Linked DNA regions of Homo sapiens. The protein of the gene in region 3 purifies or fractionates together with the protein of the main gene of each other region. This does not show direct contact. Each region holds a gene or a part of one and is shown on either strand. Other genes may lie near its edges.

The links.
Region 1: the proteins of GPM6A (region 3) and MGAT5 purify together in Homo sapiens (affinity purification with mass spectrometry; 4 studies listed by BioGRID and IntAct, with this or other methods). This does not show direct contact.
Region 2: the proteins of GPM6A (region 3) and ERMP1 purify together in Homo sapiens (affinity purification with mass spectrometry; 3 studies listed by BioGRID and IntAct, with this or other methods). This does not show direct contact.
Region 4: the proteins of GPM6A (region 3) and FITM2 purify together in Homo sapiens (affinity purification with mass spectrometry; 4 studies listed by BioGRID and IntAct, with this or other methods). This does not show direct contact.

What each region holds. Positions count from the first base shown.
Region 1 is NC_000002.12:134,249,979-134,257,071, forward strand, and holds the start of MGAT5 (alpha-1,6-mannosylglycoprotein 6-beta-N-acetylglucosaminyltransferase A), read left to right. Parts: upstream 1-4,093; 5' UTR 4,094-4,425; coding exon 4,426-4,666; intron 4,667-7,093. UniProt on the Homo sapiens protein: Catalyzes the addition of N-acetylglucosamine (GlcNAc) in beta 1-6 linkage to the alpha-linked mannose of biantennary N-linked oligosaccharides.
Region 2 is NC_000009.12:5,808,725-5,816,733, reverse strand, and holds part of ERMP1 (endoplasmic reticulum metallopeptidase 1), read left to right. Parts: intron 1-3,698; coding exon 3,699-3,845; intron 3,846-4,516; coding exon 4,517-4,609; intron 4,610-5,410; coding exon 5,411-5,623; intron 5,624-6,502; coding exon 6,503-6,723; intron 6,724-8,009. UniProt on the Homo sapiens protein: Within the ovary, required for the organization of somatic cells and oocytes into discrete follicular structures.
Region 3 is NC_000004.12:175,808,711-175,817,125, reverse strand, and holds the start of GPM6A (neuronal membrane glycoprotein M6-a), read left to right. Parts: upstream 1-4,861; 5' UTR 4,862-4,898; coding exon 4,899-4,935; intron 4,936-4,936; exon of another isoform or gene 4,937-5,266; intron 5,267-8,363; exon of another isoform or gene 8,364-8,415. UniProt on the Homo sapiens protein: Involved in neuronal differentiation, including differentiation and migration of neuronal stem cells. Plays a role in neuronal plasticity and is involved in neurite and filopodia outgrowth, filopodia motility and probably synapse formation.
Region 4 is NC_000020.11:44,307,637-44,315,851, reverse strand, and holds the start of FITM2 (acyl-coenzyme A diphosphatase FITM2), read left to right. Parts: upstream 1-4,649; 5' UTR 4,650-4,703; coding exon 4,704-4,876; intron 4,877-8,215. UniProt on the Homo sapiens protein: Fatty acyl-coenzyme A (CoA) diphosphatase that hydrolyzes fatty acyl-CoA to yield acyl-4'-phosphopantetheine and adenosine 3',5'-bisphosphate.

The DNA.
Region 1 (7,093 bases), on a different chromosome or scaffold from region 3:
TGATTTGCATTTCCTCTAATGACTAATGATGTTGAGCATCTTTTCATGTGCTTTTTTTTTCTTTCTTTCAGGAGAATTGACACATTTCTTTGCCAGAGATCTCTAACCATCTTTATAAAGGTTGAAGATGATTTTGTTGTGTTGAGGCGTCAGTGGGAAGGAACAAGGTGATTGCTACTCTTTTAGAAAGTAGGAGGATAGAGGGGATGCATATTGAGGTGGCTAATTCTGCAAACAGACTTGGTGCAAACTTTTTTCTGGAAGTGAATTGATGAAGTCACGGCCATGAGCTGACATTACTCTGGTTGGCAACAAGGTCTTCTGAGATCCACTGTATAGTCCCACTGTGCCCATTGGATGACTTAGCTAGAGGACACAGCCGTTAGAAGGTCTGGAGGTAGGCATCTTCTTAGCTCCAGCAACAACTTCTTGATCACTGTTAGTCTAGGGCTTCCTCATTAATTGTCTGGTCATTCCTGATGATCTTCATTGTCATTTTGTGGCACCAAGACTATGAGGATGGCTGTTCATTTTCCTCCTCATTGTCCACCTGTTACTGTGAGAGATAGGGGTGTCTCCTGAATAATGCTTTTGAAAAGTCTTAAGTTCTGTCATCTTAATAGGAATTGTAGAGATGCATTCTGTGATTCTCTGTGTGTGCTGTGTGTATACTGATATTGTTTCTATTATTTCAAGCTCTAAGTACCACTGGAGAAGAGAAGTTTCCTGGCACTTCTATAGTCACTTAAAATCTGGGCCCTCACTAATCAGAACTGTACTCTGAACTCCGCATAGCTAGGGATTTTCACTTCAAATTTGCATGTCTCTGAACTGGGATAATTTTACCTAGGCTGAGATTTTTTGGCCATCTCTTTGCGCCTCTGATACACCATCTGGATGTGTCTGACCTTCTCCAAGGCAAGGGCAGAGAAGAAGCCTTCTACCTTCTAAGGAAGCTATTGTTCAGTTCCTAGCCCTTGATCTTTCCTTTGTTTTAACTCCATAGCTTGAGCAGCCTATTCAGTAGGGTTAATTGAGGAAGTAGAGTGGGGTTTCCTGTCTGAAAGTGGACAGCTAATTCCTACCAGTGATTCGGGCTCTTTACTAAAATAGTGAAAGAAAAATCACCTTTTTTGATGTAGCACCTCATTGGCTTGCTCTAGGAAAATTCCTTCAGCCCTGGTTCAAAATTAAGTAATGAGTAATGAGTATGGGTTATCAAAAAAAAAAAAAGCCAATTCCCTTGGAGCTAGGTGCAGCACCTAGTTCGTAATGTGGCTGTCAGAGTGTAATTCTGATGGGGTGGAAACTCCATCTTGTTCACTGTTCAGTCACCAGGGCCTGATGGCCGCTCATGCTCAATATAGACTTGGCGCGGAGCGGAGTGGAGGAAGGAAAGAGGGCAGGTGCTAGTTGGCTGGCCTGCAGTTAGAAGGGCTGAATAAAGTGCTGTAGTGCCCTAGGCGACATATTCATTTAGCAGATACTTTATTGTGCCACTGTGGTCAGTGCCTTTCTCTGAGAAGGTGTGTGTGTGGGGAGGGGCTCCCTAAAGGATGTCATAGAGTCCCACATAGAAACTTTGAACAATCCAAGGTAGACAGGTGTTTTTAACTCATAATACTCCTTTATTCCCTGTTTTAAAAATTTTTTTAAATTTGATACAATAATTATACATAATAATGGAGTACCATGTGAGATTCAATCCACATATACATTGTGAAATGATCAAATTAGGATAGTTAGCATGCACATCACCCCCAAATAATTATTACTTTTGTGGTGAGAACACTTAAAATTGTCTCTTTTAGAAATATACGTTATTATTAACCATAGTCACCTTGCTGTGCAATAGAACACCAGAACTTATTCCTCCTAAATGTAACTTTTTACCCATTGACCACTCCCTCCTCATCCCCCTCTCTCCTCCCCACCCCTGGTAACCACTGTTCTGTTATCTCCTATGATAGCAACTTTTTAGCTTCTGCATGTGAGATTGTACGGTAGTTGCCTTTCTGTGCCTGGATTATTTCATTTAGCATAATGTCCTTCGGGTATATCCCTGTTGCTGCAAAAGACAGGATTTCTCTCTCTTTTTCTGGTTGAATAGTATTCCATTGTCAGAGAAGTGTTGTAAGACTAGGAAAGGAACACTGCAGGCTGGAGCCCTGGGGAAAGTGGTCTGAGGCAGGTGGTGGGACTAGAGCTGGGGTCTGGCAAACAGGCTGGGTTTGATTGTCAGCATAATAGAGAGCACTCATGTGCCAGCTGGGTGGGAGGAGCAGCCGAGTGAAGAAGGGGAAGCCTCTCAGGAAGCATGTGCAGGGTTTATGGTAATGAGCAGACCAGCAGGTACGTAGTGGGAGAGGGGTGTGATGGGGCAGAGGAACTTACGTTATGATAGTACAAGACAGAGGTTGAGCCTCATTTTAATAGGCATTGTGGTGGGTGTTGAATAGTGATGGAATGTATGGGTCTGGAATCAGGCTGCCTGGTCAAGGGCTCTGAAACATGAGTGTGCATCAGAATCACCTCGAGGCTTGTTAAAGGATAGGCTGTGGACCACATCTCCTCAGTTGCTGATTCAGTGGGTGTGGGTGGGGCCTGAGAATTCACATTTCTCACTGGTGATGCTGCTGTTACTGAGTTTGGGACCACATTTGGAGAACCACTGGTCTAGAATTGAGAGGTTGGCAAACCTTCTCTGTTAAGAGGTAGATAGTAAATATTTTAGGCCTTCTGGGCTACAAAGAGTATCTGTTACATATTTTTTATTGCTTTTCATGACCCATTAAGCATATATATATCATTCTCTGCCATATACAAACAGGCTGTTGGGGGAGTGAGGATGATGTAGGGAAGGTGGGGCATGGTTTAATAACCCCTGGGCCATGCCTAGATGATCAGTCCTCTGCCACATAGCTGGCTGACCTTTGCCAAGTTAATCACCTTTTACCTTTATTTTCTCATGTTTCTAATAAAACAGAGACGATAATATTCATACTTCTTACCATATAGAACTTCTGAGGATTCAGTGAGCAAAGCCACAAAAGATGGTATGTCACAATATCTGGGATATAGCTAGAATTTATAATTTATTTTTACTCTGTTGATAGGCAATGGGAAAACAGTAAGAGGCAGACCAACAGTGATCCAGGGCTCTGAAAGCTAATTGCTTCAAGATCCTGCTACCATTTTCTTTTGGGCCGCTTGCAAAGAAGAATCCTTTGACTGAAGCATGTATGTACACTCTGAAGTACAGCCTGGGTTAGTCTCTTATAAGGGATCGGATCATTGCTCAGCCTCTCCCTTGAGTGGCACTTAGAAAATGGCGCTATTCGTAAGCTGACTGGTATTGGGCCCAGGACTCTGGCTGAAGGGGTGGGCATGCTGGTAACCATTTGCAACCTATGCTCAGGTCCTACTTGTTGGGAAGCCCTGATTGAGAAGAGTGGCCTGGTCTGTGCTGGCATTAGATAGGATCTGGCTGCATTAATATTGAAACTACTCTGCCTTTTAATGTCTCATTTTGCCTCATGGTGGGAGTGAAAGTGAGAACCACAGAAAATCTGCCTGCCAGGTGTTCCACATTTCTTGTGCTACAGCATGCAAGTGAGCAGTGAGGTGTACCTTTTCCTCATGTAGCTGGGAAAGCAATACCCCTGCTTGTACCTCTGGCATATCTTCTCTGTGCTGGTGCACCTAGAGAGGTTGCCTGGTGGCCCTGAGAGAGCCATCTCATCACTAAACACTGATGGTGAAAGCTGGCCATGCTCAAATAAGATGTAGCAATCTACCTCTTCTTTGTCTAGTTACCCCCAAGGGGGCATCCACTTTCTTGCTCACCTCACCAGTTGCATGTTCTAGTCCTTGCCAGAAGCACATAATAATGACTTTGTAAGCTTAAGTTACAGGCACACAAAAGGGCCTGATGGTGATATGACTCCACCCTCCCCGTTTTTGCTGACATTCCGCCAAATATCCTTCTGTCTCCTCCCCACCTTGCAAAACAAACTTCCTGTTTTGAATTTGGTCCAGGCTGGAACAGCCCCACTACACCTGTTAACACACGCAGACGCACACTTCCCCCTTCATAATTGCTTAGCTTCTTGTTGCCTAGCCAGATTTCCCCTCAGCTTACAGTTCCTGAATCATAAGATATTGAACCAGCAAATTTAAGAGTTGACATTTTACTTAGAGGTATTCAAGTGAAAACATGGCTTCTGGTTTATTTTGCTGTATTGTGCCATGACCACTTGGCTAATTCTTCTCCTCCTTCACAGCAGAATGGAAGTGAGGAAAGGCAACCAGCTGACACAGGAGCCAGAGTGAGACCAGCAGACTCTCACACTCAACCTACACCATGAATTTGTGTCTATCTTCTACGCGTTAAGAGCCAAGGACAGGTGAAGTTGCCAGAGAGCAATGGCTCTCTTCACTCCGTGGAAGTTGTCCTCTCAGAAGCTGGGCTTTTTCCTGGTGACTTTTGGCTTCATTTGGGGTATGATGCTTCTGCACTTTACCATCCAGCAGCGAACTCAGCCTGAAAGCAGCTCCATGCTGCGCGAGCAGATCCTGGACCTCAGCAAAAGGTACATCAAGGCACTGGCAGAAGAAAACAGGAATGTGGTGGATGGGCCATACGCTGGAGTCATGACAGCTTATGGTAAGCACTGTTTCTGGGACCTCTCCATTAAAGTGTGCCTTGGCCTTGAAATGGCCCTAGAAGCTCCCAGATATGGTCTTGTCATGGACTGAATGTCCTTTGCCACTGCCTTCATAAGCAGTGAATTGCACACAGAGAGGCATCTTTAGGAAATTAAAGCAATGCCATTTTGGGGGTTCTGAGCTGGTGTATGCAGACACACTTTCCCCTGGAGTCAGTGGGTTAGTATAGTTAGGGCTCTATTGGTTGTGTTTGCAGCTAGCTCCTTCTCCCTGAACACATTTCAGGAACCATGTGATCTCATGTGGGAGTGAGTTCAGGGAATGCTGAAAAATATTCTCATCTTTCCCTAAACAAAACTTAATTAAGGCTGGTGGGGGTGAGGTGAAGAGGATGGGGAGGAATGTTCTATGGAAGCCAGTAAACTTAGAGCCAATTGTGTTCCTCCCTCCAGCCAATAAATATGACACTGGCACTTGCATGCTGGTGAGTTTTAACCTTTGGCTTCTTGAGGTTATGTTGCTCTTCTTCTTGCCCTTGTCTCTAACTGCCCTCACTTTGAAAGGAATCTTTGTGTACTTGTTGCTTTTTCTTTAAAGAATTTTTTTCAGAATTCTTTTTGAAATCAGAAAGAGTAAAAAAATACACATATGGGATGTAACTTATTTTTCTTTTATGTTTAATATAGAAAAAGTTGGAAGCTGTAGACAAGCAAAAAAAGAAAAAAATTACACATAAGTCTACTACTCCAGGCAATAACCACAATTAACATTTCAGTGTGTATTTTTCTGATACTTTGCATACACACACAAATATATATATACATATATATACATATATACATATATATACACATATATACACATATATATATACACACACATATATATATACATACACATACACACACAAATACTTGGAAAAAAATTGCAAATGGAATTTAGATCATGCTGTGTTTTGCAGAGCAGACTTGGTCTGTAGAAGATGACCTGTTGTTGAGTGACAAGAGTCTGATCATTGAATTGAGGTTTCAGTGGTCTCACTGAAGTGGTCTCCCTGATAGTATAGATGAGATGCAAGAATGGGGTTAGGTGAGGTGGAGAAAGTGGAGTTGTGTTTTGTGACCCACTCAAGGAAGGTGCCCTGAAGTATGCCGATTTCAAATCGTGATTCCCAAAAATGTGCAGCAACAGTTCAGTTCAGTGCAGGTTGAGTTCAGACACAGGAAATCATACTCAGTTATACATGTGCTTCTTTCTTTCCAAAAGGGGAAAAAAACTTGTTTTTAAAAAAGTATGTAAAATTTTATACACACGTATGTGTATGTGTGTGTGTGTATGTGTATATATTAGAAGATGCTTACTTCTGAGGAACATTTTAGAAATTCTTTTCTAGTTCTTACTATGTAAATAATCACACTCTGCATTTAATCTGTTAAAAGTGTCTGTAGGCATTGGCTTTTAATATATCTAAAAAAATGGTACCTTTTTTGAACTGATGGATTTAAAAAATGAGATTCCACTGTGGGAGCTTACACTGAAAAGTAACTAGGTAGTTTTTCCTAGAGTTGCATTTTAAAATTGCTCATTGACTCACATTTGTGTAACATTTCCAGAGTAGTTTAGATAAACCAACAGAAAATAAAGCTGATTGTCACCATTAGTGTTACCAATGTATATGACACAGCAGGTAACACAGGTGCAGTTTTAAAGTTTCTGGTTGTATGCATTTCATGTTACAGCTTTGAAGGGAAAGAGTTACAGCTCAGTGGTAATTTTCTCTTGTTTCTCTCAGTCTGTCAAACCTTTTCCATGGGCAAGAAGAAGCCCCACAAATAGCAAATTTATAGGCTTTAAATTTCTGCAGTTGTTTTGGCTGTTTGTATTTCTTGTGTATTGATGAAAATCTCATAGGGAAGGCTTCCCCACATTTTAAAGGACAATAATTTGGTCTTAGCTTTTCAGCCTCACAGAAATATTATTTTTTAAGTTACAAAAAAATCCCAGAATAGGCTGTTAGAATTTCAGCCACCTTATATGCCTGTAATCATAAGACTTTGCATCTCAAAGAAACTATAGAAATTATTTATTCCAACTTACTTTCGTAGATGAACCTTAGCAAAATAATTTGTCTTTTTCTCAAAAACAACAAAGAAACAATCAAACAGGTCACATCAGCAACTCTAACTGACACTGCTAGTTTTCTCTTTCATCGAATCAACTTTAACGTATCAAAGTGGTTTTGGGAGCTGAGTTTCTGGAATTTTTATTGGACTTGTATGTATGTGCTTGAGGTACTGGGGGGTTATCACATGGTGAGATCCTACTAAGACAGTGTCTCATTTGGTGCTGTTGACTTTTGGTCTAAATAGGTCTTGATTGTGGTAGGATTTCAGCAGCATCTCAGGGGTCTCTACCCACTAGATGC
Region 2 (8,009 bases), on a different chromosome or scaffold from region 3:
TTGATCCATTCCGTTGGTGCTGTTATGTTGTTTCCAGGTTTTTGCTATGAATGGTGCTGCTGTGAACATTCTCGTAAATGTCTTTTGGTACACATGTATGTGTATGCACATTTCTGAGTGGAATCGCTGGGTCATAAGATGTGTATATGTTCAGCTTTGGTAGATATTTTGGGTAGGTAATACCAACTTTAGATGCAAAAGTCCTAAATTAAGTATTAGCAAACTGAATCCAGGAATATTTATATATACAAAAGATAATACTTTCCAACCAAGTTGATCAACAGGATGGTATAATATTTGAAAATCAATCTGTGTAATTCACTACATTATCAGAATAAAGAGAAAAATCATGTCAATTGATAATCTCAGGATGATCATCTCAGATAAACAGGGACATGCTCTTCTGTAACAGAACATTGATCACACTCAAGAAATATTAATATTAAACTATAATAATGCATATTCAGATTTTTCCAGTTGTTCCATTAATGTCCTAACCATTTAAAAAAAAATCTGGGTTCCTACCCAGGATCAAATATAGCATTTAATTATAAAGTTGAAAACTTAATTATTGTAAGGTGAAAATCTTTTTAACTCTGTCTCATGGAAGAGGGTGGATTGCCTTGCCTGCCTAGGCATTTTTTTTAACCTCTCTTCTCAAATACAACTCCCTCCCATCTAAGAGGAACTATTATCCTAAGTTTTAAGATAATTAATGATAGTTTGGCTTTACCTGTTTTTCAGTATGGTTTTCATTGTATTTTTTAGCATAAATTTCTTAATATCAAATAGTAATATTTTAATAATAGTATTTTAATATGATAAGATCTCGTAATGTACGTATTTCCCCATCATCATAGTTCTTTTTCCTTTTGTATTTGTGTCCTCAGTGCATCACATCAGGATGCATGTGGTATCTGTTTGTCTCATTATTAATGATACTACATTTTCATCGTTTGATTAAGGTATTTATTTGCCAGGTTTTTCTACTATTTCTTTCTTTGTACAAGTTACTGATTTCCCCTTAGTGATAGATACTTTAGGTAAATATCCTGTTTGTCATAAAACTTTGATCCTAGTTTTAGCAATCATTGATGACTCTTGTCCCCAAGCATTTTTATTACAATGTTTACCAAATGCTACTGCTGAGTTTCTGGTTCCATCATTCTGCCTGTAGGTCATAGTTGGAATTCTGCAAGAAGGAAGGCTTTCCATTTTCCTTTTTTTTTTTTTTTTTTTGTTATTTCAGTACTTTATGTATTTTAATTTTACTCTATATATTCTGTTACTATTGTTTATTTTGTTGCATGAATTGTCCCAGTTTAGGCCAGTGGTGTCTATTTCAAATCAGTGCCTGAGCCCCTTTGACATGTCTTTTTGATCACTTTCTTACTTTCTGGCACAGATGTTTCAACTTACCTTGTACTTTGCTAGTCCCAGACCTGGAATCAGCCATTTCTCTAAGGAGGCTTGGTTTCTTTTGGTGGGGAATAGTATTCAAAAGTAAATGGTGCCAGATACAGTTTTTCTTTATATTTATCTTGTTTGGGGTTTGTAGACCTTTTTGAATTCGTGGCTTGAATTCTATGAGTTTTGGAAGATTCTTGGCCATTAAGTCTTTAAACATTTATCTTCTCCATTCTATCTTCTGTTCTTTTGGGACTCCAATTACTCACATTTGTGTATTTTCCAACCTTTTTTTCTTTTTATGCTTTAATTTTAATCCTTTCTTCTGCTGTATTAAACTTTGTGTTAAGCCCATTTATTAAAATTCGCAACATCAGTTATGTTTTTTCATTCTAGGATTTCCATTTGTAGGACTCTTTTAAATAGATTATACTTGTCTGGTGAAATTACTGATATCTGTGTTTTTTAAAACATATTAATCATAATTATTTTAGAATCTGTGTCTGGTAACTCCAGTATCTGGATTACTTGTATGTCTGTTTCTATAGGGTCCCTCTGCTTTTTTGGGTCATTTTTAATTTTTAATTTTTATTTTTTCAGATGGAGTCTCACTCTGTCACCCAGGCTGGAGTGCAGTGGCACAATCTTGGCTCAGTGCAGCCTTCACCTCACAGGTCTAAGCAATTCTCCTGCCTCAGCCTCCTGAGCAGCTGGGATTACCATGCCCTGCTTATTTTTGTATTTTTAGTAGAGGTGGGGTTTTGCCATGTTGGCCAGGCTGGTCTTAAATGCCTGACCTCAGGTGCTCTGCCCACCTCGGCCTCCTAAAGTGCTGGGATTATATGCGTGAGCCACTGCACCCAGCCTTGGTCATTTTTTAAAATGTAGGAAAGCAATTTTATAATCTGTGAAGTTAAAAAAACAATATTCTTAGATTCCCTGACATTCAGTTACTTGGTCTGTTTACATCAGTCAATATGTTGCTAAGTTTTGTGGTAACAACCCCAAAATCTTGGTGGTTTACAACAGCAAAGGCTTATTTCTTGCTCGTGTTGCATTTTGGTTTCTGAATAACTGCAGTTATGGTCCACGGTTATTATGTTCCATGTGTCTTATTCATTCTGGGATCCAGGCTGAAGGAGAAGCCCCTATAAGGGATGTATTGATCTCACAAATCAAAGTTAAGGATAAGTATGAATGATGTTAATGCCTTTGAAAACTCTGCCCAGTTGAGGGTCATGTCATTCCTCCTCACAGTCTGTTGGCTAGAGCAAGTCATGTAGCCACGCCTGCAGTTAATAGGTACAGAAGAGTATGTACTCATTCCCCAGGCAGGCATTACAAGGTATGTGGCAAGAGTAGGAATGTATAATCCTTTTTCAGCGAGGGAAGAGTGAATAATTATACAATTATACATATAATTATATAATTATAATTATATAAATATACGTATAATTATATAATTATATAAATTATAAAACAATGTATCCCACTATCCTACAGGAAAAACTCCCATTTGAAAAAGCTGTAGATGTATGAGATACAGATGGAAAATTATTAATAATGATAAATTATAAAAAGTAACAAGGAACTTTATGGCATATTCAGTGAAATGTTAAGCAGTTATCAAAATGATTATTATAATACAGATTGAGCATCCCTAATCTGAAAATTTGAAATCCATAATGCTCCACAATTCACAACTTTTTGAGCACTGACATGATGCTCAAAAATGTTCATTGGAGCATTTCTGATTTTGGATTTTAGGATTAGGGATGCTTACTAGTATAATGCAGATATTCCAAAATCCGAAAAAGTAAAAAATCCAAAATACTTCTGATCCCAAGCATTTCAGATAAGGTATACCCAATTTGTATCTAGCAACATAGGAAAATGCATTTAATATAATGTTAAGTGAAAACAAATGTACAAAGTATATATATCTTGAGTACAGCTATATACACACAATTCTACATTAGTAAGAAAATTAAAGATATACAATTGATAATAGGCATTTTAGGATGATAGATTTATGAATGATCTTTCATTTTCAGACAGACTTTTGTATTGCTGTTATTTTATACTTTATTTTCACAAAAGGTTTTTATTCTAAAAGTCAAACACATATATCAGAGAAACATTGGAAACTACAGAAAAAGGGATGAAAAGGTACATATTGGACCCGTCTCCCAAAACCACCACTTTTACTGTTTTCTATGTGTTGAAAAACATTAGTATGTTAAAAAAAATTGCCGGAATACCTTCTATTGTGTTGTCATCTTTCATTTTAGGTCCTGAAAATCCTTGGTTGGTTCAAGCTTATGTTTCAGCAGCTAAACACCCTTTTGCTTCTGTGGTGGCTCAGGAGGTTTTTCAGAGTGGAATCATTCCTTCAGATACTGACTTTCGTATCTACAGGGATTTTGGGAACATTCCAGGTATATTGTCAATGGTTACGGCCTACTGTGCAGCATTTATTTATCAAAAGCAAATTTTAAATCTTGAAAGTATGTGAGTAAACAGCATTTTCTGAGATCAAATTCTTTATGTGAGAAATATACATTGACTCACTAAAACAGAGTTTGTTTCCTTTTTTAAACTCCATACTAATTTAAATGCTGGCCTCCTCTAAAATATGTCATCTTTCCCCATAGAAGAACAGGGGTGAACTGTTTAGCACCTCATTCCCAAAAGATGGTAATAGATCCTTCAGGGGTCTTTCGTTGTTGTCTTGGTTTGCCAACTCCCTTGGCAACTTGTATGTACAACTTATTTGAAGTTAAAATTTGGCTCTGGCCTGGCAAGAATGTAGGTGGCAAAATTTTCATGACCTCCCAAACTCAATATTCCTATCCTTGCTGTGTGACTTGTAATGCCTACCTGTGGAGTAATATACTTCTTCAATCATTATGTATCGAATTATGTACCAAAGCTATAGACTGTGTAAGAATTTGGAAGAGAATTTATATCAGTCGTTTGTAAATGTGACAAAGCAATCGTGCCACTGCTTTGACATTTTGTCTTTTAGGAATTTATTAAAGAAATAGGTCGAAAGCAAGGTTGATCTTTAAAGCAAAATGACTTTTTTTTTTCTATATATATGTTTTAGGAATAGACTTAGCTTTTATTGAGAATGGATACATTTATCACACCAAGTATGACACAGCGGACAGAATTCTAACAGATTCCATTCAGAGAGCAGGTTGGTATTCCAATTTAGACTTTTGATATACACTAAGATGGAATGTTAGGGATGATACATAAACTTGTAAATATTCTGTGGCCTGTGCATTAGAGAGGCAGTATGCAATGTGAATGAGCTAGGGCTTTGGAGTTGGAGAGATGAGATCTTGAATTTTAGTCTTGTAGTCTAGTGTAGCAATTAAGGTCAGGAATATTCATTGTGAGGAAATGAAAAAGGAGTTGGCCCAGGGTTGGGAGGATTGCTGAGTGGTAAGAATGTAGCTCTGTTAGTCTCCCATGATGTTTTCCTGTGGAACTCTGCTAGCTCTCCTCAATTTTTAACACATGTGTGACAGCTTGTTCAGCATCTCTGAGCTTCGTGAAAGGCCTTTGTCTCTTGGTTCACCACTAAATTTCTGATATCTAGAAGAGTGTCTAGTACAGTTAATATATATTATTAAATGAATGGGTACCAAGAAACAGCCATTGGATTTGTCAACAATGAAGGTACAATTGATCACAGAGAATAGTTCTAATAGAAGGGAAAAGATACAGGCCAGTTGGCTGAGCGTCTGAGTGGAGAGGAAATGGAGAAAGGCAGGGGATGGACCTTATTTGAGAAATTTAGTAAAAAAAGTGAGGGAGAGCAGTAGGATGGTAGAAAGCGATTTCTGTTCACATTCTTTCTAACCATTTCTTCATTCAAACAGTATATGGTTTATTTCTGCTTTAAATAGTGGTATGTGTAAATCACAAATAGTTTATTCAGCCTTTTTATCTTTTTCCTTTTCTTTCTTTTTTTTTTTGTTTTTACTAATAGGTGACAACATTTTAGCAGTTCTTAAGCATCTAGCTACATCTGATATGCTGGCTGCTGCTTCTAAGTATCGACATGGAAACATGGTCTTCTTTGATGTGCTGGGCCTGTTTGTCATTGCCTACCCCTCTCGTATTGGCTCAATCATAAACTACATGGTGGTAATGGGTGTTGTTTTGTACCTGGGCAAAAAATTTTTGCAGCCCAAACATAAGAGTAAGTATTTTCCTCTAAAACTACAAATACTGGCATTGCTGTAGAATGTGCTTGAAGTTTTTCAGTCAGTTTGTTTATATCTTCCCAGAAAGCTAAAAATCTTAAGACAATGTTTGCTTTATATTGTAAGAAATTTTTAAATATTAAATTAATATGCTTATTTTACTTTTAGTCTTGGTGAAGCAGTCAATTTTTATATATTTAGGCACTCCATAAAAGTACCACATAGAAACTATTGAAAAATGGTTTGTACAGATTGACTTCTAATGAAAAGTCCCATTAAAAAGTCCACACTACAGACCAATAGCTAGTATGGACCAGTGTCACGAAGTATGAATGAACTGCTTGTGGTTAAACTGTTTCTTTTATTTGAAATATTTCTGCTTGAAATGTTTCAGAGTCTAAGTTGTTGTGTGCTGTTACGAGATAAAATATTTAGCAGCAGTTTAAATAATTCTTTATCAACGCTTATTTTCCCCACACTCCTTATCTTCTTATGTTACCTTATTTTAACAACATTTTATATGGAACTTTGCCTTCCATTCTTGCTAATATTTTGATACACAAAGCATACCAAAAGTGAAGAAGATTAAGACTATCCTCTTCCTTCATAAGGAATGTACCTGAACTATTCCTAGAAGATTTATCTTTTTGAGTGTTTAGTATCTAGAGACTCTTAATAAATGTTACCTGAATATTATTATTTGATACCTCCCTTGTTCTTGTGTTTGGCCAATCTCAACACTAGGACATTTTCATACTTTTCAAGTACAGTGGGGAGTTTTTTGTTTTAATGTTTGCCCATTTAGCTCTACTGACTGGTTATATAACTGATTTGATGAAGATGGTGATTTCAACTTTTTGTTTTCTCTTCATTAGCTGGTAACTACAAGAAGGACTTCTTGTGTGGACTTGGCATCACTTTGATCAGCTGGTTCACTAGCCTTGTTACCGTTCTCATTATAGCAGTGTTCATCTCTCTTATTGGACAGTCTCTCTCATGGTATAACCACTTCTATGTCTCCGTTTGTCTGTATGGAACTGCAACTGTAGCCAAAATAATACTTATACATACTCTTGCGAAAAGATTTTATTACATGGTAAGTGTTTGGTATATTTGTTGATTTCTTTCTGTTGCCTCCAGGGACTGAAGATGAACTTAAGTGTGATTCATTGTATTTGGCCTTTTGAGTGCTAAAAAATTGTTCAGCATGGTTATGGAAAACGCACCTACACTGTGTTAATTTTCTGAAAGATTTCTTATTCTGAGGGTAATGTCACAAAATTCAAATGAGGTTATAAAGCCGGGCTGTTAACAGTGTTAGGGTGGTGGTGACTGGAAGGCTTGTTAGCACAGCCTTCTACTGAATTTGCTGCAGTGTTTGTAAATATGTCCTGGGCTCACCCACTTATTTATGTTATTTGAATATCTGTTCTCCATTGGAGTGTAAGCTCCTTGAGGATAGGGATTGTTTTATTTATTTCTGTATCCTCTGTGCTTAGGTAGTGTCTGACACACAGCATTAACACACAGCAAGTATTTGTTGCCTAAAAGAATGTTGTACTTAAAGTTTTTTCAGTTTTTCCCTCACTGTTTTTTCTTTTTAACTGTATATTGTTGATTCAGATTCTGCATGCATGTATGTCATTGGAGTTAAAAGACACATTGCTAAGGAAAACAGAGGGAAGGGAAATAGGGTTCCAAATGATTTATACTGAGAATATTGTTATATTATTATGGTTTCAAATGCATAAATTTGTTTGGCAAAAATAAAATTAGAAATTAGGGCTGGCCGGGCGCGGTGGCTCACGCCTGTAATCCCAGCACTTTGGGAGGCTGAGGTGGGCGGATCACAAGGTCAGGAGATCGAGACCATCCTGGCTAACACGGTGAAACCCCGTCTCTACTAAAAATACAAAAAATTAGCCGGGCGAGGTGGCGGCGCCTGTAGTCCCAGCTGCTCGGGAGGCTGAGGCAGGAGAATGGCGTGAACCCGGGAGGCGGAGCCTGCAGTGAGCTGAGATTGAGCCACTGCACTCCAGCTGGGGCGACAGCGAGATTCTGTCTCAAAAAAAAGAAATTAGGGCTATGGGCTGGGTGCTGTGGCTCATGCCTGTAATCCCAACACTTTGGGAGGCTGGGCAGGCGGATCGCTTTAGCCTGGGCAACATGGTGAAACCCTGTCTCCACAAAAAATACAAAAAATTAGCCAGGCATGGTGGTGTGTGCCTGTAGTCCCAGCTACCTGGGTGGCTGAGGTAGGAGGATTACCTGAGCCCATGAGATCAAGGCTGCAGTGAGCTGTGATTGTACCACTGCACTCCAGCCTAGGGGACAGAGTGAGACCCTATCTCAAACAAACAAACAAACAAAAATTTAAAAAGC
Region 3 (8,415 bases):
AGCACTTTGGGAGGCCGAGGCGGGCGGATCACGAAGTCAGGAGATCGAGACCATCCTGGCTACCACGGTGAAACCCCATCTCTACTACAAATACAAAAAAAATTAGCCGGGCGTGGTGGCGGGGTGTAGTCCCAGCTCCTCGGGAGGCTGAGGCAGGAGAATGGCGTGAACCCGGGAGGCGGAGCTTGCAGTGAGCCGAGACCGCGCCGCTGCACTCCAGCCTGGGCTTTGAGCGAGACTCCGTCTCAAAAAAAAAATAAAAATAAAAAAAAGAAAAGAAAATGTTATGAAAGTCAGTTTCTGACTTGGAGCTTAAAGCAGCAGACAAAGGGGTCCTTTTTCTCTGTCAAAATATAAGAAGATCCCAACTAAGACATTTCATTCTAGAGATAATGTTAATTCTGTGTCTGAAACATTTGACGTAGAATAAAAGGCAGTTTCTAAACCGTGTTCCTGCCTGTTAGTCCTATGCACTGGGCTAGGTTTTCATGATCTTCTTTTCCACATCTCCTCTCTGTTCTCTGACCCAGGGACTACGAACATTTTTCCCCCTCACTTTTTATAGTTAATGCGATATTTGGAACCACAACTTCTTTAATCTGTTAACTCTCCTTACTTGTCTATATTATGAACATTGTATCACAAAGATGACTGCATTACATAATAGAGGAATATGTCGATATTTACTTATTGTATATAATAATGTGTTTATCCATAAAGACAAGATGAAGTGTTAAAGGAAGCTCCAAATTAAGATTAAGAAAAATGAAAGAGAATTATAATGGTTTTGGATTGAGTGAGCTCACATAAGAAAAAAGTAATATACATTATAAACATTTCTTAGACAGTATTTGAAAGGGAAATCTGACTTGATAAAAATATAATCATATTTTTAACCACCTAGTTAACTTATATTTGTTTTATTTTATTTTTTAGAGGCAGGGTCCTACCCTGTGGCCCAGGCTGCAGTGCGGTGATGTGAGCATAGCTCACTGCAGCCTCAACCTCCCGGGCTCCCGTGATTCCCCTGCCTCAGCCTCCCCAGTAGCTGGGACTATAGGTGTGCACCACCATGGTTGGATAATTTGTTTTTTTAAAGTGTCTGTAATGGCCAGGTGTGGTGGCTCACGCCTGTAATCCCAGCACTTTGGGAGGCCGAGGTAGGCGGATCACCTGAGGTTGGGAGTTCGAGACCAGCCTGACCAACATGGAGAAACCCCGTCTCTGCTAAAAATACAAAATTAACTGGGCATGGTGACACATGCCTGTAATCCTCGATACTTGGGAGGCTGAGGCAGGAGAATCGCTTGAATCCGGGAGGCAGAGGTTCTAGTGAGCTGAGATCATGCCATTGCACTCCAGCCTGGTCAACAAGAGCAAAACTCCATCTCAAAAAAAAAAAAAAAAGAAAAGAAAAAGAGTAGAAAATATTTGTAGTGATGAGGACTGTCTATGTTGCCTAGGCTGGTCTCAAACTCCTGGCCTCAAAATGTGTTTTGATTACAGGCATGAGCCACTGCCTACAGCCCATATATTTTAAATAAATGACTAAGAGTAGAATGGGGCAAATACAATACGATACAATGGAAAGAGTATTAGATGAGGCATTTCAGTCCCCATAAGGACACATCATTGCTAGTTATTAAGCTTTATATAGTATATTTTATAATTAATAAAGCAAATCTACTATAATGTGAAACGATTTTCTTTTCTAACTAGTTTAAGATACTGGAGGTTCAAAATATTTTTACTTCCAATGAGATCCAAATTTTAAAAAATAATCTTAAAACCACCATTAGCAACAACAACTTGGCTGGGCTTGGTGGCTCACGCCTGTAATCCCAGCACTCTGGGAGGCCGAGGTGGGTGGATCACCTGAGGTCAGGAATTTGACACCAGCCTGGCCAACATGGTGAAACCAACCCGGTCTCCACTAAAAATACAAAAACTAACTGGGTGTGGTGGTGCATGCCTGAAATCCCAGCTACTCGGGAGGCTGAGGCAGGAGAATTGCTCAAACCCTGGAGGCAGAAGTTGCAGTGAGCTGAGATCATGCCACTGCACTCTGGCCTGGGCAAAAGAACGAGACTCCATCTCAAAAAAAAAAGAGAAAATCATCAACAACTCAACTGCCATCAAACAGGAGGAAGGGGAAAGGAGGAGTGCGTTTTTAATGGGCACAGAGTTTCAGTTTGTGGAGATGAAAAAGTCCTGGAGATAGCTGGTGGCCATGGTTACAGAATGATGTGAATGTACCTAATGCCACTGAACTACAGATTTAAAAATGATCAAAATGGCAAATTTTTCTTTTATATTTTACCCCAATAAATACTGAAAGCCTACTGACAGGTGATTGCTGTGAGGAGGCTATGTATGTGTATGCATCTCTCTTAATTCATTTGACGAGTCCATTTGGACTGGCTCTGAGGACTTTTTTGTATATTTTAAAAATTGGTACAAGTTGATGTTGACTTATGTTGGTAACAATTGTCACATGAAAAAGCCTGTTTTAGACAAAAAGTGAATGGTTATATGAGTGTATTCTGCTGCAAAATTTCCAGAAGAAAAAGAAATCATGAATATTTTTAAAATTTCCTTTCCCTCTCATTTCCCTCTTTTGCTTTATATGTGTGGTGAAAAAGAAAGCTATGAACTGAGGCTGATTTCTGAAGATGCTGAAGATACTCATAAAGGAACAGAGTAGGAAGGAAAATTAGCTTCTAAGATCAGAACATTAGGCAAGAAATCAACAGACATGGGTTCTAAGACTTACTTGGTGATTTATTAGCCCAGTCTCTAGGTGTCCCTGAGCATCCGTGTTTTTTGTTTTTTGTTTTCATCATAAAGTGGGGAAAATTATGCTTTTCCCATTTGACTTACAACGGGTTAATGTATGTAATCATGTTTTATAGATTGTAAAGTGTTCTAAAAATTTAAGGTGACATTATTGTATCTACTGGCACTACAATAAACAATTGCTTTCACTAATGATTTCCATGGTATAAAACGAATGAAGGATCTAAATGAGGAGCGTTGCTCCGTTCTGTGTTGATTATATGCCAGGTTATGTCAGCCTAGGGATGAGTTGAAGCAGAGAGGCTGCTACAATTTGGCTTTTTGATTTCCCTTATGGTTTCTCTCTCTCAATCTGTGCACTGAGCAAGCAGCTCTCTCAAAAACCCTTGAATACACATTGATATATATTCCAAAGAGATAGGTTTTGAGTTATTTGAACTCCAGTTATTTTTGGACAAAATTCATTTGAAAAGAGAAAATAATAACAAATGATTATACAAGTAAGAGGACTAAACATTCATTTATGAGAAATAAAGTGGAATGCAGTAATTGTGTTTCCTCTAAATAGCTGCTTTTGTAATATTTAGAGGGTGATGTGCAGCATGCTACTGGCCTGCTTTAAAGAATGCATGTGAAATACAAGCTATAATGCAAGAAACGTATGCTATGGATAATGAGGATGTGAGCTATTTTTCATTAAAGGCAGAGAGTTACAGTTATGTCTGTGTGTGTGTCCTTGTGTGTGTGTGTGCCTCTCCGTGTGTGTGCTTGTGTGTGTCTTTCTGTCCCTCTGTGTGTGTTTCTGTCCCTGTGTGTGTGTGTGCTGGCTGATTTGGAGATGAAGACAGAGGCAAGGATCCTTTCTTTCTACTCTAGGAAAGGTTTATGCTCCTTGAAAGAGATACTGTTTATTTTCTTGCTATACCTTTTGTGAAGTATTGAGACTCTTGGACTGTGCCCTGTCACTCAGTAGGCTGAAGTACAAATGCTAATTATCGCCAGACTGCAGCATTGTGATTTGCATTCCAAATCAGCTTGCAGATTCCCATTATAAATTGCTATCCTCTTGTTTCTTATCTAAAATTTGTTCCTCCCTTACATCACTCTTCTCATTCCCTAACACTGACCTTTAAAGAAATTCCCTTTCAAGAGATTCTCATTGGAAACCAGCAGCTTTCGTGGGCTATAATCATAACAATAAATAACAAAGACATCAATAGGGTTTTTCCTTCCAGTGGTTTTCTCCCTTTTACTTAAGAGTCATATGGCACTAAGTAAAATAATTACTTAAAACATGTATCTCTCAGGCTTAGAGCTTTATACTCACTCCTTTGACAGCCACGCTTCTATTTCTTTTTAAATCTCAAAGGTGTGGGATTACAAGTCCTGTCTTAGTAATAAACTTTTGCAGATAAACCCTGAGATGGTATAACTGCATCCTTTCTTGGCACCTTAAATCAAATTAACTAAATACTTAGTGAGGAGAGAAAAGGAAAACACAGTTTTTTTGCAACGTATCTGACTGGGTGAGAAGCCACTGCTGCAGCATAAAGAACCGACGGGAATCTGGGCTTTCCCACTCTGGAATGAAGGGGGGAATTACGGGTTGGTGGTCGGCTTCATGTTAGGAGGACACCCCTCCATCTGTTCACAGCTCAGCCTGTTTCCAATTTAAAGCCCAGATTTCAATACAAACCTCAATTTCTTTTCCCCATTTTAAATGCAAAGCAAGACTTGTGAATCATAGTGTCTCTGCTCCTGGGATTCAGACCAAATTTCCCCCCAAAATTCTCAGGCTATTTGTTTGAATACCTGCTTACAGTGGTACACAATGGGCAGCTTTGAGAAGAAAAATTGATAATCTTCACGGAAGAGTAATTTGAATGAAATTACACTTGACAGCCTGTCTCCAAGCAAACAAGAGGAACGAGGGAGCCTGAGCTAAGCTCTGAGGACTTGCCCAAGCCACTGCTGTTGGAGCTTCCCAGGAAAAAAAAAAAAAAAAAAAAAAAAAAAAAAAAAAAAAAACCCCCAGTTTTTCCAACATCTAATTGAGCTTTTGATTAATTCCGTGTACCAGATTCTACTGAAGAAAGGTAGCCATGGAAGAGAATATGGAAGAGGGACAGACACAAAAAGGTACTGTGCTAAAAGCGTTTATTTGTAACTAAGTAATTATTTTGCAGTTTCCTTGTTTGCTTTAGACACTTGCCAGTAAGGCTAATGAATGTTTCTCTCTTGGAAGGCATTTTGTTCCTTCCTCTCCTTTAGTCTGTTCCTCACTTGCAGTAATGTCTGGCACGAATGTTGTCATTATTTGCAAATCTTTCAGATATAAGTACCGAAATGCAGAGTCGAGTATTAGTGAGAAGAGCATTGCGGTATTGTAGTGAACTATTCCTTAGACCAGTCTTTGTTAACCTTCATTTATTTCGTGATTTCACACTTGCCGAGCTGGGTCAAGGGATCCCTAGTGTGAGCCACAAATACAATATTTGGAGTTAGTTAAAAATTTGGTGATGGAACCATTATCCATATCTTTGCATGGACATCTGATAGAACAAAGACCAAGACCATTAATTATCTTTTGATTGGTGCACCTTTTTAAAACAATCTTTAAAAAATAAAAACTAAAAACGAGGATGCAATATAGGTTTAAGCAGATGGAGCAAAAGTTCATAAATTTTCAGGGTGTATGGAAGCGTTAAGATTTTCCTTTCTATATAGTTGACTGTAATCAACTTCTGAGTAATAATGTTAAAGGAAATTTTTTTATGTGTTTTTAAAGCTTGTCTAGGTATATCTGGCTGTATGAGTTAAAGTGAAATTTCCATTTTTGAAGGTTGAAATGGTCAAATATTGGTAATTTGGAATGATTCAATCAACTCGAGAATTGTTTTAACGTGTCAAATGGTAGCTTCAGAGGGAGCTAGCTTTCACCCCAGATAGGCAGCGTTTCTCTCGTCTGCTGTCGGGCTTATGTAATGTCAGAGAAAATGGTCTCATTTTCTTAGTACTGAAGCAGTAACACAGGTAATACTACATAAAGGTAATATTCAAGAGTAGTGTTGAAAAAGATTCAGCTGTCAAAGTTAATTTCAAATGTATATAAAGGCACTTATCGTAAAAAACTGTATTTTATGTGATAAAATATATAGGGTGGAAGCACAGTATAGTTACCATATTTTTAGCCATTTAGCTATGCTGGGTTTCTTCTCTTAATGTACACACACATACTTTGAGGCATATATGGTGCATACACACACACACACACACGTAATAAAGGACCATCGATATTAAATACATGAAGGTTTTATATAAGCAAGAGATAATAGATAAGTTGATTTCCCAATTTTAGTCCTTAGTACCCTTATTCATGATAATCTGTAATAGAAACACAAAAATCTACATTAATAGCATGTGATCTATTTTTAAATTAAAAAACCTCAGCTCCCTTTATTATATGCACAAATAGCCCAAGTTTTCATCAGTGATTGTAAATGGGACATTTTAATGGTAATTTCTGTTCTTACAAGACATCTCAGTGGACTATTTTAACTTAGAATAAATTACCTTATGACAACATCTTTTTTGTAATACCTAATAATGATACTTATTGGCCGATCAATTTGCTTAAGGAAAGATAAACAGCATTTTAAATAGAGGAATGATATTCATTACACTAAATAAAACCTTGAGTTAAATCATGGATTGTGGTAACAGGTTGAATGTGTCTGAGCAAGCCTTGGTAGATGCGGGAACCAAGAAAAATGATGTAATTAGTTGTGATGTTTTTTTCTCAGGTAACACTGAAAAGCTTTCTTTTATGGGGGTGGAGGTGGCTATGCCGTGAGGGGAAGATTTCTGTCACAGTGGGTTTTTCCTCATTAATATATGCACCAGCAGCAGTGGTGGAAAGCAGTTTTAAATCAGAAAAAACGTTTAGTGGTCTATCAGTTTGTAAATGTATATGAATACAATATTTATGATTTAGGTTTTTTTCTTAATTGAGAAAAGAAGATGTAATTTTCTTCACTCTTGATCTTCTGTTCCTCTCAATTACGCCTATGACACCTTTTCTATATAAGTTTGTTGTTAGAAAGTTACATTTGAATCGAAATGCTCTGTCGATATGTGCGTGGGTTGTAACTGTGAAATTACTGGAGGAGCAATTTGACAAGCAGACAAAATCGTTACAGATTTTTCAAGAGTTTAGGTGGAGAGACTTAATGATCTGTCTAAAGAAAAGCAGCATTTTGTGTTAGTTCTTATCCTGTTTTTCTTAAACTGCATAGGATTTTCTTAAACAATAATTCAAATAGCACAGAGTTTTCTTCCATTTGCAAGAAGTAAGTGGCTTTTCAGTCTTTTCTTAAAATTTAGACCTTGTCTTTCCTGTTACATGTCACCAAGACTTAAAATTCACATCAGTGTTTACTCATATGACCTTGCAAATTCAACTAGAAGGTAAAATTCAGTGGATTCATTAATTAATTGCAATTTGCTATGTTCGAAAATATATATACTTGGTGTTTAAGCATTTAAAAAGATCATCCGTCTTAAGAAATATATTTTTCTTCATAGTGAGAGCCCACTCCCCTCTCAAGCTTTAAAAGACAATTGAGAATAGTCCTAACTTTTATCCTAATTTAAGCATATGTGTTCAGTCAGAGAGAGAGGATAATTTAACAGTATGGGTGACTTCACCCACCAGCCATTGTGTTCAATGAGCCCATGCCTGATGTGAAACTGAAATGGGGATCATTAATCTGTTGCTCCAGCAATTTCTGACACCCTCCCCAAAAGTGAGTATCTCATTATGCTGAGGGGAATCTAGTATTTTAAGAAACATATTTTTTGGTAAAACATGGCCTCTAAATGAAAGCCACTTACTTCATCTTGTGTGCAGCCAAAACAATGATATTCTAGTATAGAAAAAAAAAAAGGAAAAAAAGAAAAGAGTGTTTTGAATTTGGTCTTTACTATGGCCATAATAAACCTAGCATCATCTGTCACCAAAATCAAGAGCCATTGTCACAAAATCATGGCAACAAGGACCCCAGTTACTACAGAGGGGTTGAGCAAAGTGAATAAAGATATTTTGATGAAGATTTAACAGGTAGGCGTTTATGACTTGTAGCCATGCAACTGTTTCTAGAACATTTTGCCAAATCTTACGAGAAAATACGTAAATGATTTTTGGGTTTCTAATTAGGAGTGAATTGGTGAATACACATTCGGGTGGCCAGACAAGTGGGTGACCATCTCTTCATGGACAGCCCTAATGAAGGCCTTGCTGAATTAGGAGGGCTTTACAGAGGAAGGCTGATGAATCAATAAGTAAAGGGAGCAACAAAACTGTATAGAGATAAAAAGAAAACAGCAAGGGACAGAAAGAGCCAGCAGGTTGGAGTCTTCATAAATTGGCTGAACTGTTCCAAACAGCCAAAACCCTGATGGCTTTAATTTCTGAACATGAACATTTTATGAAACAGGTCTCAAAATTACATGGAGTATACCAGAAAGTTTTGATCAGCACAAAAGATAACAGCCACAGTGTCACTCACCTTATTTTTCTAGTGTAATAAACCAGCAGCTTATGTGAGTCTGTGCTGTCCA
Region 4 (8,215 bases), on a different chromosome or scaffold from region 3:
TACTAAAAATACAAAAATTATCCAGGTGTGGTGATGCATGTCTGTAATCCCAGCTACTTAGGAGGCTGAGGCAGGAGAATCGCTTGAACCTGGGAGGTGGAGGTTGCGGTGAGCCGAGATCGTGCCACTGCGCTCCAGCCTGGGAGACAAAGCAAGACTCTGTCTCAAAAAAATAAAAAATAAAATAAAATAAAGGTTTACTATTGGCTCTCTAGGGAAACATGTATAAGCATATACCTACCTATGTTTATTATAAATGTTTCTTAATGTGTAGCACATTATTTACAAATAATAAAATATATGGCCAGGCTTGGTGGCTTACACCTGTAATCCCAGCACTTTAGGAGGTTGAGATGTGCAGATTGCTTGAGCCCAGGAGTTTGAGACCAGCCTGGGCAACATGGCAAAACCACATCTGTACCAAAAAATGTACAAAAATTAGCTAGAGGTGATGGCTGATTTAGTCCGCCTGTAGTCCCAGCTACTCGGGATGCTGAGGTGGGAGGATCACTTGAGCCCAGGAGATTAAGGCTGCAGTGAGCCATAATCACACCACTGCACTCCAGCCTGGGCAACAGAGTGAGAACTTGTCTTAAAAAAAAAAAAAAGAAAGAAAGAAAAGAAATATATAAATACTCTTTGTTATAACTATAGCTAATTGATTCTCACAGAATGCTTTTATTGATTTTTGTTGGATTCTTGTAACCATAGGCAACCTGTGGTTTCAATTCAACCATGTTTTGACAAATGGAGTTGACTCTCAATGTAGACAAACCAAATAAATCCCTGATTTGTAGCACCTGCCAATTTCCATAGTGTAAATACTCCCCCTGTGGCTGATTTCAAGCTCTCAATGTGACATCACTGAATAGATTTGGGAAGAGTTGTGCAGGAGCTTACCATACAGGAACAATAGATGTAAGTTACCCCAAGAGCATAGATAATAATAAAACATAGTAAAATAATTAGTAACTAATGAGTTTTGAGTATTTTCAGTTTGTTTTTTTATATATGTAACTTTTTTTTTTTTTGAGAGAGGATTTTGCTCTGTTACTCAGGCTGGAGAGCAGTGGCATGATCACAGCTTACTGCAGCCTCAGTCTCCTGGGCTCAAGCCATCCTCCCACCTCAGCCTCCTGAGTAGCTGGGACTGCAGGCACACACCACCATGTTTGGCTAATTTTCGTATTTTTTGTAGAGATGGGATCTCCCTATGTTACCCAGGCTGGTCTGGAACTCCTGGGCTTAAGCGATTCACCTGTCTTGGCCTCCCAAAGTGCTGGGATTACAGGGGTGAGCCAACAGGCCCAGGCCCTATAATGCAGTTCTTAATATGGCTGTGTTTGACAATCACCCCGCAAAAGTTCTGAAAATTTAATCATCAGCTCTTGCAGGCTGGTATGAGTTGACTACAGCACATCATTTCACTCACAACATAAATATGTATTTCCCAATACTGATTCAATTTTTTTTTAAATACAAAAACTTCTCTAGAGACCTGCAACAATTTTTTCAGGTTGAGTTTAACCCAGTCTTCAAAAATCTCCAGCCATGGTGGCCAAGCGTGGTGGCTCATGCCTGTAATCCCAGCACTTTGGATGCTGAGGCAGGAGGATTGCTTGAGGCCAGGAGTTCAAGGCTACAGTGAGCTATGATCGCACCACTGCCCTCCAGCCTGGGAGTGCAGAGCAAGATCCTGTCTCAAAAAAAAAAAAAAAAAGAAAAAGAAAAAAAGAAAAGAGAAAATGGAAGGAAGGAAGGAAGGGAGGGAGGGAAAGAAAACTCTCCAGGAATGAAACTGCAGTTTCAAAGGAAACAAACCCATTTCCTTTCTCAAAAATACAAATCCTGAACCTTTCAGAAGGTACTCTTTGGACAGTCCCTCGGGGTGATATTTAGTGTTTATATTCACCGAGCAGTCTTTCCCTCCTTCTTGGGTTGGGGGACGTATCTGGATTTTCTTTGGAGGAACCACACAGCTAATAAGGAGGAGAACCGGCACTCAAACCCAGCATCCCTGCTCTTAATTCTTATGCTGTTTGCTAAGGAAAGCCACAGTAATTGAGCACCTGACAAACTCAAGGAGACAGAGATGGTATCAGATACTATTTACAAGCTGCCTTCATAAATAACCCCTTTCTGGCTATGTAGTTTTTATTCCCAATCATGAAATGCCAAATTGGTATAATTATCACTATATTTTATTTTTTAAACCAAGCATTCTGAAGGCCTGGAAGCATCTTGCTATATAAGAACTCTAATCAGATAAATGCAATTTACAGATATGAAGGTCATCTTAAGATGGTTTTAAGGAATTATTATTTTCATTAATTTGTTGATTCTCTGCATGAGACTATAAACATTAGTCCATTGTAGGCATAAATCAGGCTAACATTTCCCAGTGTGGTAGCTGTCCTTGGTATAGAGACACAAAATTATTTTGGGCAGCTAGTGATGATGAATATTTCGATAGAAATTTTTCTTTGGGCCGGGTGTGGTGGCTCACGCCTGTAATCCCAGCACTTTGAGAGGCAGAGGCAGGAAGATCACTTGAGGCTAGGAGTTGGAGACCAGCCTGGTCAACATGGCGAAACCCTGTCTAAAAATACAAAAAAATTAGCCAGGTGTGGTGGCATGTGCCTGTAGTCCCAGCTGCTTGGGAGGGTGAGGCAGGAGACTACCTTGAACCCGGGAGGCAGAGGTTACAGTGAGCCAAGATCAAAATAGCTTGGCCTCCCAAAGTGCTGGGATTACAGGCGTGAGCCACCACGTCTGGCCTAAAATGCCCATCTCTTGATATGACTATATATGTGTGTATTGGCTGGGTTTGTGGCTTTTGGAATAAACTTCTGTTGTTTAAAACAAGTTTAGGGTTGGGCACGGTGGCTCGCACCTGTAATCCTAGCACTTTGGGAGGCCGAGGCAGGAGGATCACTGGAGCCCAGGCGTTCGAGATCAACCTGGGCAACATAGTGAGACCCCATCTCTATTTAAAACTAAAGAAAAAAAAAGGAATAAAAATAAACTGAGTTTATAGTAATTTATTAGAGCTGCCACAGGAAACTAACATTGGGGTAAGGGAATGAGTCCAAGGTTGGGAACTGAAATAGACACCCAGCCCTAACCAGGGGTGAGGGGTTAGTTTTGTGATAAACTGAGCAACTGAGTCTCCAACAACTTCATGTGATCTCCCCATTAACCCCCAGCATCCAGCATTTTCATCCAACAGGCATAGATAGCTGTTTTGTGTTTCTTTGTGTGCTTTTTAAGACGGTCTCGCTCCGTGGCCCAGGCTGGAGTGCAATGGGACCATCACAGCTCACTGCAACCTCAAATTCCTGGGCTCAAGCAATCCTCCCACCTCAGCCTCCTGAGTAGCTGGGACCACAGGCCTGAGCCACCAAGTCAGCTAGTTTTTAAAATTATTTCTTATAGATACTGAGTCTCACTGTGTTGCCCAGGTGAAAATAAATTTAGAAATTTAAACTTTAAATGTAATAATTGCACCAGGTGAGATGGCTCACTCCTGTAATCTCAGCACTTTGGGAGGTGAAGGCTGGCAGATCACTTGAGGTTAAGATTTGGAGAGGTCAGATCACTTGAGGACAGGAGTTGGTCAGCCTGGCCGACATGGTGAAACCCCATCTCTACTAAAAATACAAAAATTAGCTGGGTGTGGTGGTGCGTGCCTGTAATCCCAGCTACTCGGGAGGCTGAGGCAGGAGAATCGCTTGAACCTGGGAGGCAGAGGCCTGCAGTGAGCTGAGATCGCGCCACTGCATTCCAGCCTGGGCAACAGAGCGAGACTATGTCTCTAAATAAATTAATTATATTAATTAATTAATTTAATAACTGCAGAGCGTGGTGGCTCACACTTGTAATTGCAGCATTTTAGGAAGCCGAGGCAGGAGGATCGCTTGAGCCCAGGAGTTTGAGACCAGCCTCGACAACGAAGCAAAACCCTGTCTCTACAGAAATAAAAATAAAAAAAATTAGCCAGGTGTGGTGGTGCCCGCCTGTGGTCCCAGCTACTCGGGAGGCTGAGGTGGGAGTATTGCTTGAGACCAGAAATTTGAGGTTGCGGTGAGCTGCGACGGTGCCATTGCACTCCAGCCTGGGCGACAGAGAGGGACCCCCCCCCAACTAACTAATAAATAAATAAATACAATAATTATTCCTAAGGAAACTTCATCTCATGTCCCTCTACGTGTGCCAACGTAATGAACCCCTGAGCTCATAAACTAGCTTTTGGGAAAGGTTGATCTCCTCTTGTCTCTCGCATTTTACAGATGAGAAAACTAAGACTCAGATGGCAGAGGTGTCTCCGAGGCTCCAAGAAAGATCAAATGATGCTGTGACTACTGCTCCAATTCTCCAGGGCTACATTTATCCTCTTCCAGCCTCCAGCAAATACTTTCACAAGCGCTTTTTCCCAGACCAGAGCAAGACGCGGAGGCTCGGGGAGAGGAGGCGGCCAGGAGAGCGCAGAGGAGACGAGCGAGTTCGGGGACCGTCACGCGCCAGAGGCAGCAGCGGCCACGAGGGGGAGCGCGCGGGCTCCGGAGCCCAAGCACGCCTCAAGCTGTGGGACTCGCGGGCAGTGCGCATGCGCTCGAAGGGAGGTGGAGGCGCAGGTCCGGGCGAAGGGCGATACGGTGGCCGAGAGGGCACGGAGAGGAGGACGGTGGCTGACGAGATCCGGCATGGAGCATCTGGAGCGCTGCGAGTGGTTGTTGCGGGGGACGCTGGTGCGGGCGGCCGTGCGGCGCTACCTGCCCTGGGCCCTGGTGGCCTCCATGCTGGCGGGCTCCCTCCTCAAGGAGTTGTCCCCGTTGCCCGAGAGCTACCTCAGCAACAAGCGCAACGTCCTCAACGTGTGAGTGCACCCCGGTCCTCCGCTGTCCCCGCCCGAGCCGGCCCGCTGTCGCCTCGCCCAGAGAAGCCGGTGCTAGCTGCCGTGGTGGACGAGTCATTGGAGGGGAGGTCCTCCTCCTAGCCGTGACAGCAGCATCTGCACGCGTGTCACGCCTGGGAGGCCCCGGGGTAGCTGGTGTCACTAGCAGTTAGTGTTTGCAGACCCACTTTGGGCAGCATGAGCTTGACTGGGCAGGTGGTGACAAGCGGGGTCGTGTGTGTCTCTGTATATGTAGGGGTGTGGAATGGGGTGGGGATGAACCAGCCCCTGTCACCACTCCCCCGCCTCCCCTTGGAGTTAGGAGCTGACCCCTGCCCTGTTTGGGAGATGCCATCTCACCTCTGTCCTGCCTGCCTGTGGCAGACCCCGCGCAGACCCCACCCTGCGTCAGATCAGATCCCTCCAGCGCGTGACAGAATCCCTTTACGACCTGTGGAAGAGCCTCGCCCCAGCCTGTGACAGGCAGAGCCCCCGCCTGTGAGATACTCACAGAGGGCTGGAACCCCCTAGTCTGTGCCCTTTCCCCTGGATCTCCTTGGATCATCTCAGCCACTCAGAATGCATGGCAGTGGCCCAGAAAAGCAATCCCAGCTGGGCGCTTTGAGACATCTCCTTAACTCCACCCATCCACTCCTTTGCTTGCTTACTTGCTTTTTTCAAAACTCCCGGTTAGTAAGTTTATTGCACAAAAACTCTGTTGCGGTCATAAAGGGAAACTCTGAAAGATAAAACTGCTCCCTTGATGTGAGCCTAAGTGTTTTCCAGAATAAGTGTCTCTGGCGTGTCCTGAAAGTCAGCCCAACTTTGGTTATCTGCTTAAAACCCTGGTTCCTTTCACAGGCAGCTTCCTCAAATGCCTGACGGGTCTTGGCTCTGGCAAGATCTTCCTTATCAGTCCCAGTGAAGATTTTAGTGACAGGCCTGGGGGTGGTGCCTGAGAATCCATTGGAACCTAGAAAAAAGTCCTTCTGTCCTTGGTCCACCTTCCTTCCTCACCCACCCTGAGAGGCTGGGCTAAGAATAGATCATGAGAGTGGTAGTGGCCCCAAGTCTCTGTCCTGGGTTTAGGTCAGCCACCTTTCGTGAACGCTGGGGAGGCGGACAAGGCAGCTGCTGCTTCCTCTGGCCTAGGTGAGCTGGGAGCCAAGTGGCCTGGCTGACAACACACCCCTGTTGTTTGAAGGTAGTCATGGATCCTGGAGTTTTGTTCCAAGCCTCTGTGCTGATTAATGAGAGGGAACTAGTGAATCCTGGGATATAGAAGGGACCTTAAAAATCATTTGGTCCTCTCAGCTCTGTTTGATAGCTGAAGAAACTGAGGCCTGGAAAGGTAGGAGGTATAGTAAGTTAAGTAAGAGTGAAGATTTGAACCCGTAAGAGTGAAGATTTGAACCCCGGTCTTTTGGCTTAAAGTAAGACCTTGTTGCAAGACTGTTTCTGCCGTTAGGAAAGAACCAGGCTGGGCGCAGTGGCTCACACCTGTAATCCAGGCACTTTGGGAGGCCAAGGCAGGTGGATCACTTGAGGTCAGGAGTTCAAGACCAGCCTGGCCAACGTGGTGAAACCCCATCTCTACTAAAAATACAAAAATTAGCCTGGCGTGGTGGTGCGTGCCTGTAATTCCAACTACTGAGGAGGCTGAGGCAAGAGAATCACTTGAACCTGGGAGGCGGAGGTTGCAGTGAGCTGAGATCATGCCACTGCATTCCAGCCTGGATGGCAGAGTGAGACTTTGTCTCAAAATAAATAAATAAATAAAAATAAAAATACAAAAATTAGCCGAGTGTGGTGGTAGGTGCCTGTAATCCCAGCTACTCCGGAGGCTGAGGCAGGAGAATTGCTTGAACCCGGGAGGCGGAGGTTGCAGTGAGCCGAGATCGTGCCACTGCACTCCTGGGTAATAAGAGTGAAAACTCTGTCTCAAAAAAAAAAAAATCATTTGGTCCCCCCAGCTCTGTTTAATAGCTGAAGAAACTGAGGGCTGGAGAGGTAGGAGGTATAATAAGTTAAGTCAGAGTCAAGAGTTGAACCCGTGTCTTTGGCTTAAAGTAAAGCTCATTGTTGTAAGACTGTTTCTGCCATTAGGAAAGAACCAGGCCAGGTGCATGGCTCATATCTATAATCCCAGCACTTTGGGAGGCTGAGGCAGGATAATTGCTTGAGGCCTGGAGTTCAAGACCAGTGGGGGCAACATAGCAAGGCCCCATCTCCACAAAAATAATAATTAAAAAAAATTAGCCAGGCACATTGGTACACACCTGTAATCCCAGCTATTTGTGAGGCTGAGGCAGGAGGATTGCTTGAGCCCAGGAGTTTGAGGCTGCAGTGAGGTGTGATTGTGCCACTGCACGCAAGCCTGGGGGACAGAGTGAGATCCTGTCTCAGAAAAATAAAAATAAAAAATAAAAAACCACATATGGTATGGGAGAAACAGCATGAGTCTGGGGGCTATCCAAACCGTGGTTTAATCTGTTCATGCTGGTTGTGTGAGTGTGACCCTGGCAAGGTACTGAACTTTTCTGAGCCTTAGATTTCTTGTCTATAAAATGGAACAATGGCACCTTCCTCCCAGGGTAAATGTGAGTGCTCTATGGGAAAGTGAATGTGTGTGAAAGCTCCTGGCATTTGGTAAATGCTCAGTTATTATTATTTATTTATATTATTTTCCTAAGTAAATAACATAGTGCTTAAGACGACAGATCCTGGATTTGAATCCTGGCTCCTCCGCTTCTGGCCTCCACTTTTGGTGTGGCACTTCCCTCTGTCTCAGTTTTCTTCTCTGTTAAAGGCAGATATTAACAGTACTTAACTCATAGAGTTGTTTTTTTTCGTTTGTTTTGTTTTGTTTTTGAGATGGAGTCTCGCTCTATCGCCCAGGCTGGAGTGCAGTGGCACAATCTCGGCTCACTGCAAGCTCCGCCTCCCGGGTTCATGCCATTCTCCTGCCTCAGCCTCCCGAGTAGTTGGGACTACAGGCGCCCGCCACCACGCCTGGCTAATTTTTTGTATTTTTGGTAGAGACAGGGTTTCACCATGTTAGCCAGGATGGTCTCGATCTCCTGACCTCGTGATCTGCCCACCTCGGCCTCCCAAACTGCTGGGATTACAGGCGTGAGCCACCGCGCCCGGCCAACTCATAGAGTTGTTAATGGATTACCTGGTTAATACATTTAAAGTACTTACACAGGGGTGGGGTAGGGGAGGAGGGGAGGGCTGGGCACAGTGGCTCATGCCTGTAATCCCAGGACTTTGGGAGGCCAAGGTGGCCGGAGCATTTGAGGCCAGGAGTTCGAGACCAGC